Linked DNA regions of Homo sapiens. The protein of the gene in region 2 purifies or fractionates together with the protein of the main gene of each other region. This does not show direct contact. Each region holds a gene or a part of one and is shown on either strand. Other genes may lie near its edges. The genes, in order: ELAC2 and GLYATL1.

Region 1 (3,814 bases), on a different chromosome or scaffold from region 2:
CTCAAGATTCTAATTCACTAGGTCTAGGGCAGGCCCTGTGCAATATTTTTCACAAGCACAAGGTAAATCTGAATGTCGGCTAGGGCTGTGTATCGCTGCTGTGTGTTAAGAGCCTGCGCAGATGCCAACAAAGGGACACCAGGTTCTTCAACCCCGTGATGTTGCCTGTGGGCCCGAGTCTTGCTAGTATAGTCTCTTAAAGGGCCCCAACTACCCAACCTCAACAGCACACAGCATCCAGTCATAATCCAGCACATGCTCTATTCTAATACAAATACTGTGGAGTGGGCAGGAAACTTAAAATCAAGGTTCAGATCCTTAAAAATTAAAACAGGCCGGGCACGGCTCACGCCTGTAATCCCAACACTTTGGGAGGCTGAGGTGGGTGGATCACCTGAGGTCAGGAGTTCGAGACCAGCCTGCCAACATGGTGAAACCCGTCTCTGCTAAAATTACAAAAAATTAGCCGGGCGTGGTAGCAGGCGCCTGTAATTCCAGCTATTCGGGAGGCTGGGGCAGGAGAAATGCTTGAACCCGGGAGGCGGAGGTTGCAGTGAGCTGAGATCACGCCATTGCACTCCAGCCTGGGCAACAAGAGTGAAACTCCGTCTCAAAAAAATAAATAAATAAATAAAATAAATAAATTAATTAATTAAAATAAAGATGTGGGGCAGTAAGGCTGTTCACTTTCCTGGTTGGATTGTACTGGAAGAGGCTTTCAAGATGGCATCTTACATTTATCAAGTACCTTAACAAGTCTCACACTCTGGGCCAGTAATCCCACATTTAGGAATGACTTGAAGGGAACAGAGTTCCCATCAAAGATTTATATATAAGACATTTATTGTTTCATTCATTAAAAACAACAAAAAATTGGAAACATCCCAAATGAGTAAACATCCCTATTTGGAATACCAATAAAAATCTTGTTACTTAAGACTGTTTAGTGATACAGGAAAAGACTGACAATATAAACCCACATACACAAATCAAGAAACACAAAATGTTATCAATCATTATCTCTGGGCAACAGGATTATGGGTGACTTTGTTCATCACACATTTCCTATTTTCTATACTGTGAAACACACGAGCTCTATCACTGCTATTCCCATGCAAGGCAATTTTGGAAAAGGAGAACTACTGGCCCCAATCCGCCCACCTCAACCCAGCCTGGAGTAGGCTGCTTTTCTAAATAAATTCACGCTGGCACACAGCCAAGCCCATTCATTAGCTTATTGTCCGTGTTTCTTTTGTGCTCAAAGCGGAGTTGAATAGTTACAACAGAGACCATATGGTCTGGAGAGCCTCCTGGAACATTTACTATGTGGCTATTTACAGAAATGTTTCCCAACTCGACTGAGACGATTCCATTAGTTCAAGATGGCACAGACCTCTGCCACTCCCTCCTGGGACGGAGCTGGTACTTGAGGAGGCATTCACCCTGAACCATGGGCACACTGAGGGTGGGGCCCTCCTTCTGAAAGAGACAAAACACATTCATGGAGAGAAAGAGAGGGGACGAGAGCTGGGCCGACAAGGGGCCGGTCTGAGACACTACCTTACAGCGGAAACTGGTGAGCAGGGGGAAGATGTCCGGGTGGATGAGGTTGAGCTGGGTTTGAATCTTGTGGCTGCGAAGGTTGTGAACTGAGGCACAGTTCTCATTCAGGACCAAGTGCTGGGTGTCAGGCCCAAACCTGTGAAGAAACAGACCCGGCATTTGCAGCGTCTGTTAGGAGGCAGCTCCCCCTGAGGAGTGGTGCTGAGCTCAGGAGTGGTAATGAGGATGAGGTGTTCAAACAGTTCAGTGACTTGCCCCAAGCAGTGTTACTACATGGCCAAACATGGTCCCACTCCTGCTGTCTCAAAGCCCGGTGTTCCCTAGCTCAGCTGCCTTTCAGGTGTGCTGGGAAGAGTGAGAGGAAAAACAAGAAAAAGAAGATGTCCAGGGCATACAAATAGGGGACCCAAACCCTGAGGAATGAAAGAGACAGCAGGAGAGCAGGCCATGGAGTGAGGGGCAGGTAAACGGGCCATGTGGGGAGATACGGGCAGGGGCCAAAAAGCAGCCCAAGGTCACCCCGCACCCGAGCTCAACTCATACTCCTCCACCTGGCCCTGGCCAGCGATGCCCCGAGGAAAAAGATGCCTTCCAGTGACTAAACATCTACCTCCCAGGGCTGCTGGCGACGACCCTAGAGGAAATGAAGTGAAATGAAGGGTATTTCACACACTGCCTCCCACAAAGTGGGCATTCAGTAAATGGAAGCTATCATTTTATAGCTGCAATCTCTTCTTTGGAATTCACTTATGGAATCCTCAACCAAACGGCAGTATTTGTTCAGACACCCTGAAGAGTGTGGAGGGTGTAAAATAAATGGAATCGTGTGGACACTGCGCCACCTAGCGGTGCATTTTCTTCACGAGTGTAGCACAGATCTGGGAAGCCTAGAATTCTGGGAAGGCAGGAATCCCACAGAAAGTTTAGGCAGGTGCAGAAGGGTAGGTAGCGCTGGAAAGAGCACGAGGGGAGGAAAGGGGAATCCACCACTGCCCAGAAGAGTTACCCCAAGTGCCGCTGGGCTGGGCTCCATACCTCTCCATCCACTGCTGGTACCTGCTGTCCACAAGCACAGATGCTGGGGCCATGTGAACCACCAAGGCCACGGGGGCATCTGCCTTTCCTTGGTACCTGGGCAGAAGAGTGGGGCTTTACAAAGTGATGCAGACTCAGGACACACCAAGACAGGGACCACGCAGCCAGGGAGGGGTATCGTGCGGCCCTCTGCAGCACTGCAGTGAGCTGACAGCCTCCACGCCCAGGCCATGCTCTCACAGCAGGCTGCTCACGGCAGACCCCGGTGCTGGGCCATTTCCAATGGACGTGGGATTCCTGTATCTGGCAAGCTCTGCTCTGGGCTTTCCAGTAGGCCTGGCTGATCCTTTCTCAGCACTGCACTTCCTTCCTACCCTCTCCACTCATACGGGTCCAACCTGCAAAGCCAGACCCAGGCTCTCCCTGCCTCCTCCTGCTCCCTCTCTCCTTCCTCTCTCACAGTCAAATTTCCTCGAATAAACCTCCTGCACCTCCAATGCCACCCTGGTGTCTGCCTTCCAGAGGACCTGAGACACAGGCACGAGAAATGAAAATCATCTGAAATTTCACCACCTGGACAACAGACCACTTACTAACATGCTGATGTGTTTCCCTCCAGTTCCCTTTAAAAAGAAATATACACAGTAGCTATTTTTATCTATCCCAGCATCATCACACATCCACACATGGCTCTCAAATGACACCTGATTCATTGAAGAGGTTTTGCTGCCCAAAACTGGATTAAAATACAAAGCCGGGGCTACCAGCGCATCCAAATTCACCCACAGAGAATAAAGCAGACCATGAAACAACTCCTAACGCTCTGACTCGGAAGGGGTACAGCAGCCCAAAAGGATTTGTTGTGGTAAGTAGAAAAAAACAAGTGAAAAAATACAGATAGATACAAACTAGGAACAGGAAAAATACAGGTAAACCATTAAGAGTGGGGGAAAAGATTCAAACTCAGATAGGTGGGTCAAAGATGATTCCATCTGGAATGAAAGCTGAACCGCAAAACTGGTTAACTTCGATAGAGGACAACAACAGAGTGGCAGTTAGCCCAAAAGACATTCCCCAGCTGTGAGTCCATCCCATAACACGGACTCTTGACCACGACAGTCTCACACACTCTGACCCACCTCATTTGTTTCAATGCAGGTAATGGAAGAAAATTAATTCAGTTCAAAATAATCCAAATGATAATCTGGGGCATTAG
Region 2 (4,352 bases):
TGTTCTACTTACAAGATCAGTGCAGGAATTATAAAGCATTAATTCAGAGTGGACTCTTGGCAGTGTGTAATTTATGGTGCATGTGTTCTCCATTCTGTCTGTGTTTCTGTACCATTGGGTGATAACACTAGAATCTCAAATTTGGGAACTTTTTTGAAAGTGGGGCCATGCCTAAATGGTATCCTAGTTGTCTCTTCCACCATGACCCCATGATGGACCTGCAAAGTCCCAAAGATGGAAGAACATTCAGGGGTAGCCAGCTGGAGAGACCTAGAATCAGAGATCTCTCACACAGCCTGAAAAGCCCAAAGCAGATGAGCATAACCTCAGCACCTGTGAAACCAGAATTCATTGCTTCCATTCAGAGATCCCATGTTCATGTCAGAATCCAAGCTGCCACGAGTGTTTCATGAAGTCACTTATGACTAATACTGAGTACAATGGGACTGATATCAGAACTAAGCTAGGCCCGGAGAGCCCTGAGGTTGTGACACATAAGGCTAAACCTTTGAGTTTTGATCCACAGAGTAGATACATCAGAGAAGTGGACTTGGAGAATCCCCTGCTGGAGTCCTAGAGAGTAACCACTCTGTCAGATAGCATGTGTTTCTGAGAGGAAAGCACAGGGGTCTAGTTCCAGCCGTATCCCTCTGCACCCCATATGCACGTGCTGAGTTCTAGAGAGACTCCAGAGCTGGTCTGAAAGGCTGATGCAAAGGAGTCTGCTCTGGAACTGAAGTGTTATAAGAAACTGGCAAGCTCAGCAGCCCTACAGATAGGTGAGGAGCCCAGAGATGGGAGAGGAAGCTATTCTCCTGGCCAAGGTCCTGATTCAGTTTGCCAGAATCATAGGCAGACTTGAGGCCGACTGGAGCTAGCACTGGCAGTGGAATTGAAACCTCCCCTGTAGTCCCATAGAGAATTTTTTTTGTATAAACATAGAAATTGACCCTTCTGATCTTAATGCTTGAAACTTTTATTTGTTTTATATGAATTTCATCCTTAGTAAAGGACCCCTACGTCCCTCAAAAAGTATCAAAGAATTGAAACTCACCAGATGATCCCATCCAGACAATGGGACACCAGACCCCTCATAAATTATGATTGCTTCCTTAGGTCGCCTGAGTTCCTGTTTTTCTACACATTGTTACATTTCTTCACTGCTATGAAAACTCATAATTTTAGTTGATCAGCAAGACGGATTTGAGACCGAGCTTGCATCTCCTCTGCTACAGCATCCAACTCAGCCTTCTTCCTTGGCAATTGGTTATATTGATTGGCTTTCTGTGTGGTGAGCTGCAGGACCTAGACCACACCCCTGGTGTTTCAGTAACAGCTTTTGGTTTCCCGACCAGGAACACTTTGGCTCAGTTGCCATGGGCCAGGAGTCTCACAGAACTACTAAGCAGCTGCTTACCCAATTTTGGCTGGAGAGATAAGTACCCTCTGGGGCCACCACAGCTGGCCCCAACCATGGTCCTGATTGCCTTGGAAGAACTGCCTTTGGAATTTCACATCGGCATCCAGATAGGTGACTGTCCTTTGTGGGCCCAGACAGAAAGATCTGCTCCTCTCAGTTTGGGAAATTTTTAAAGGAATTTCCACTTGCGGGTTGAATAAGCCCAACTGACGAAGAGAGGAAAATACCCTGACTGTTTCAGTATGGACATTCTTGGGGGCTTGTTTGTCATTGTGTGTGTGTCCAGGCAAGTGAGTGTCTTTTGTGGGTACTAGATAGTGGGATCAGCTCCTCTCCATTTGAGAAATTCTGAAGGAATTTTGATTTGCAGGTTGATTGAGCCCAACCAATGGAGAGAGGAATCACCCCAACTGTTTCAGTTTGTAGACTTTTGGGGCTTGTTTGATGCTGCAACAGTTGGATTGTTTTAGTGATTGTTTGCAAGTGTCTGATATAGTCATCAGAAATCAGAATTTAATAAACTGACACTCTTTTGTAACACTGTTTGACCCCAGTATAGTTTGGAATCTGGTATTTGCCCTTGAATGGGAAAGTGGGTTGGAGTTCCATGTATCCAGGCTTTTGTGCTGCTGCTGTTGGGCCAAGTTAGTATGTGATATTCTCCTGTGGTGCTGTTTGACCCCAGTGTTCTTTGGAGTCTGGAGAACTTTGGACTTTAAAAATTAAACTGCCACGGAAACTGTTTTACTGAAAATTTTGGTTCACAGCCTTCACTGGATTACCTATCAAGGCTAACAAAGTTCAGCCATGTGAACATGTTTGCAGACTGATGAGTTTCTATTTCAATAGCTAGAGTTCCAAGGTAAAAGCTATTGGATCTTTGGGTGTATGTATGTCTAGATGTGTCTTTGGGTGTATGTATGTCTAGATGTGTTAATGTGTAGGCATATGTATTACGTTAAATGTTGTGACTACCCAATTGGATTATAAATAAAAGAGTGCTCATAGATTAAGTAAACAAGTCCAAAGTATTTTTCATGTTCATGCTACTTAAGTAAATCTTTAGCAAGCTAGCATTAAAATTTTGTAAAATAAAACTAGAAATGTCATCATAGTTGTCAGCATACATTTTTGTCTGGGTTTTGTATTTGTTTCTGCTAGATATTTTGAGGTATGAGAGTTTGGCACAGAAGTTTATAAAGTTGTCACCAGGAGTTGGAGATAAGCCTGGGAAACAGAGACCCCCTCCCCCATCTCTATAAAATAAAAATTAAACAATTAGCCAAGCACAGTGATTCATGCTTGTAGTTCCAGCTACTCAGGAGACTGAGATTGGAGGATTGCTTGAGCCTGAATGATCAAGGCTTCAGTGAGTCTTGATTCAGCCACTGCACTCCAACCTAGGTGAAAGAGCGAGACCCTGTCAAAAAGACAAATAGAGGCAGAGAATGACAATGGGGCACAGAAGCATTGCAGGGAGACTAGGGGAGGAGTAGTAATTTTTTTTATTATTATTACACTTTAAGTTTTAGGGTACATGTGCACAATGTGCAGGTTAGTTACATATGTATACATGTGCCATGCTGGTGTGCTGCACCCATTAACTCGTCATTTAGCATTAGGTATATCTCCTAATGCTATCCCTCCCCCCTCCCCCCACCCCACAACAGTCCCCAGAGTGTGATGTTCCCCTTCCTGTGTCCACGTGTTCTCATTGTTCAATTCCCATCTATGAGTGAGAACATGCGGTGTTTGGTTTTTTGTCCTTGTGATAGTTTACTGAGAATGATGATTTCTAGTTTCATCCATGTCCCTACAAAGGACATGAACTCGTCATTTTTTATGGCTGCATAGTATTCCATGGTGTATATATGTGCCACATTTTCTTAATCCAGTCTATCATTTCTGGACATTTGGGTTGGTTCCAAGTCTTTGCTATTGTGAATAGTGCCGCAATAAACATACGTGTGCATGTGTCTTTATAGCAGCATGATTTATAGCCATCCCATTACTGGGTATATACCCAAAGGGGAGGAGTAGTAATTTTTAATAGGATGGCCAAAGGAGGCCTTATTGAGCAGGTGGCTTTTAGGTGAAGACTTAAAGAAGGTAATAGAGTTTTTATAGGTCTAATAAGAAAACAGAATGCAGGCAGAAGAAAAAGAACAGCCAAGTGCCTGAAGCAGAGAGGCCAAAGAGAGTGAGGTCTAGGACCTGACTGGACAGATGTCAGGGAGGTGACTGGAGTCTAACTTAGAGAACTGTTATAAACAATTTGTACCTCTTTCTCTAAATGAGATTGGGAGTTGCTGCAGGAGTTGCACAAAGACATGACAAAATCTGGCTTTTGTTTTAAAAGGAGCATCCTCATTTGTTATTGACGGAAGACTAAAGGCATTCTCCATCCAGAAAAGACTGCTAAGAACTGTGAAGCATATAAAAGTTTACCCTACTTGGGGCAATGTTTCATGAATGCTGACAGATAACACAAGCTTTCTGGGTCAAAGACAGAGTTTTATGACTCATTCAACAGGGAGAATGATTTTTGTGTTTGTGTCAGTCATCCTTGCTCCACAAGTCCTACAGAGGAAATACAGAAAGGCAGATTAATGTTGCAAGTGCAACAGATGTGTGTTGAAGCCAAGGAACCCTGAATTTAGGTCACCTGGATGTTTTATAATGAACTGCAAGCAAACCTGTCTGAACTTTGCTCCAGAGGGGGACATTATCTTTCTTATACTGATCAGTAAGCAGACCTACCCTCTGCTTCAGAAGAAAGCAATATCTCTAGCTTCCAAGCTGTCCTCTTTAGAAACATCCTTGAAAAGATAGTCAGGAGAAAAGGCTGTCAATGTCTCTGCTCATAAGACATACAGAAATGTGAGAGGCCATGAAGAATTTTCTCCCAGCCAGAATTAGCAGGATGTCATAA

The links.
Region 1: the proteins of GLYATL1 (region 2) and ELAC2 purify together in Homo sapiens (affinity purification with mass spectrometry; one large-scale study listed by BioGRID and IntAct). This does not show direct contact.

The regions. Positions count from the first base shown.
Region 1 is NC_000017.11:13,000,881-13,004,694, forward strand, and holds part of ELAC2 (zinc phosphodiesterase ELAC protein 2), read right to left. Parts: intron 2,695-3,814; coding exon 2,599-2,694; intron 1,700-2,598; coding exon 1,561-1,699; intron 1,480-1,560; coding exon 1,394-1,479; intron 1-1,393. UniProt on the Homo sapiens protein: Zinc phosphodiesterase, which displays mitochondrial tRNA 3'-processing endonuclease activity. Involved in tRNA maturation, by removing a 3'-trailer from precursor tRNA.
Region 2 is NC_000011.10:58,938,120-58,942,471, forward strand, and holds the start of GLYATL1 (glycine N-acyltransferase-like protein 1), read left to right. Parts: upstream 1-1,368; 5' UTR 1,369-1,531; intron 1,532-2,039; exon of another isoform or gene 2,040-2,282; intron 2,283-4,352. UniProt on the Homo sapiens protein: Acyltransferase which transfers an acyl group to the N-terminus of glutamine. Can use phenylacetyl-CoA as an acyl donor.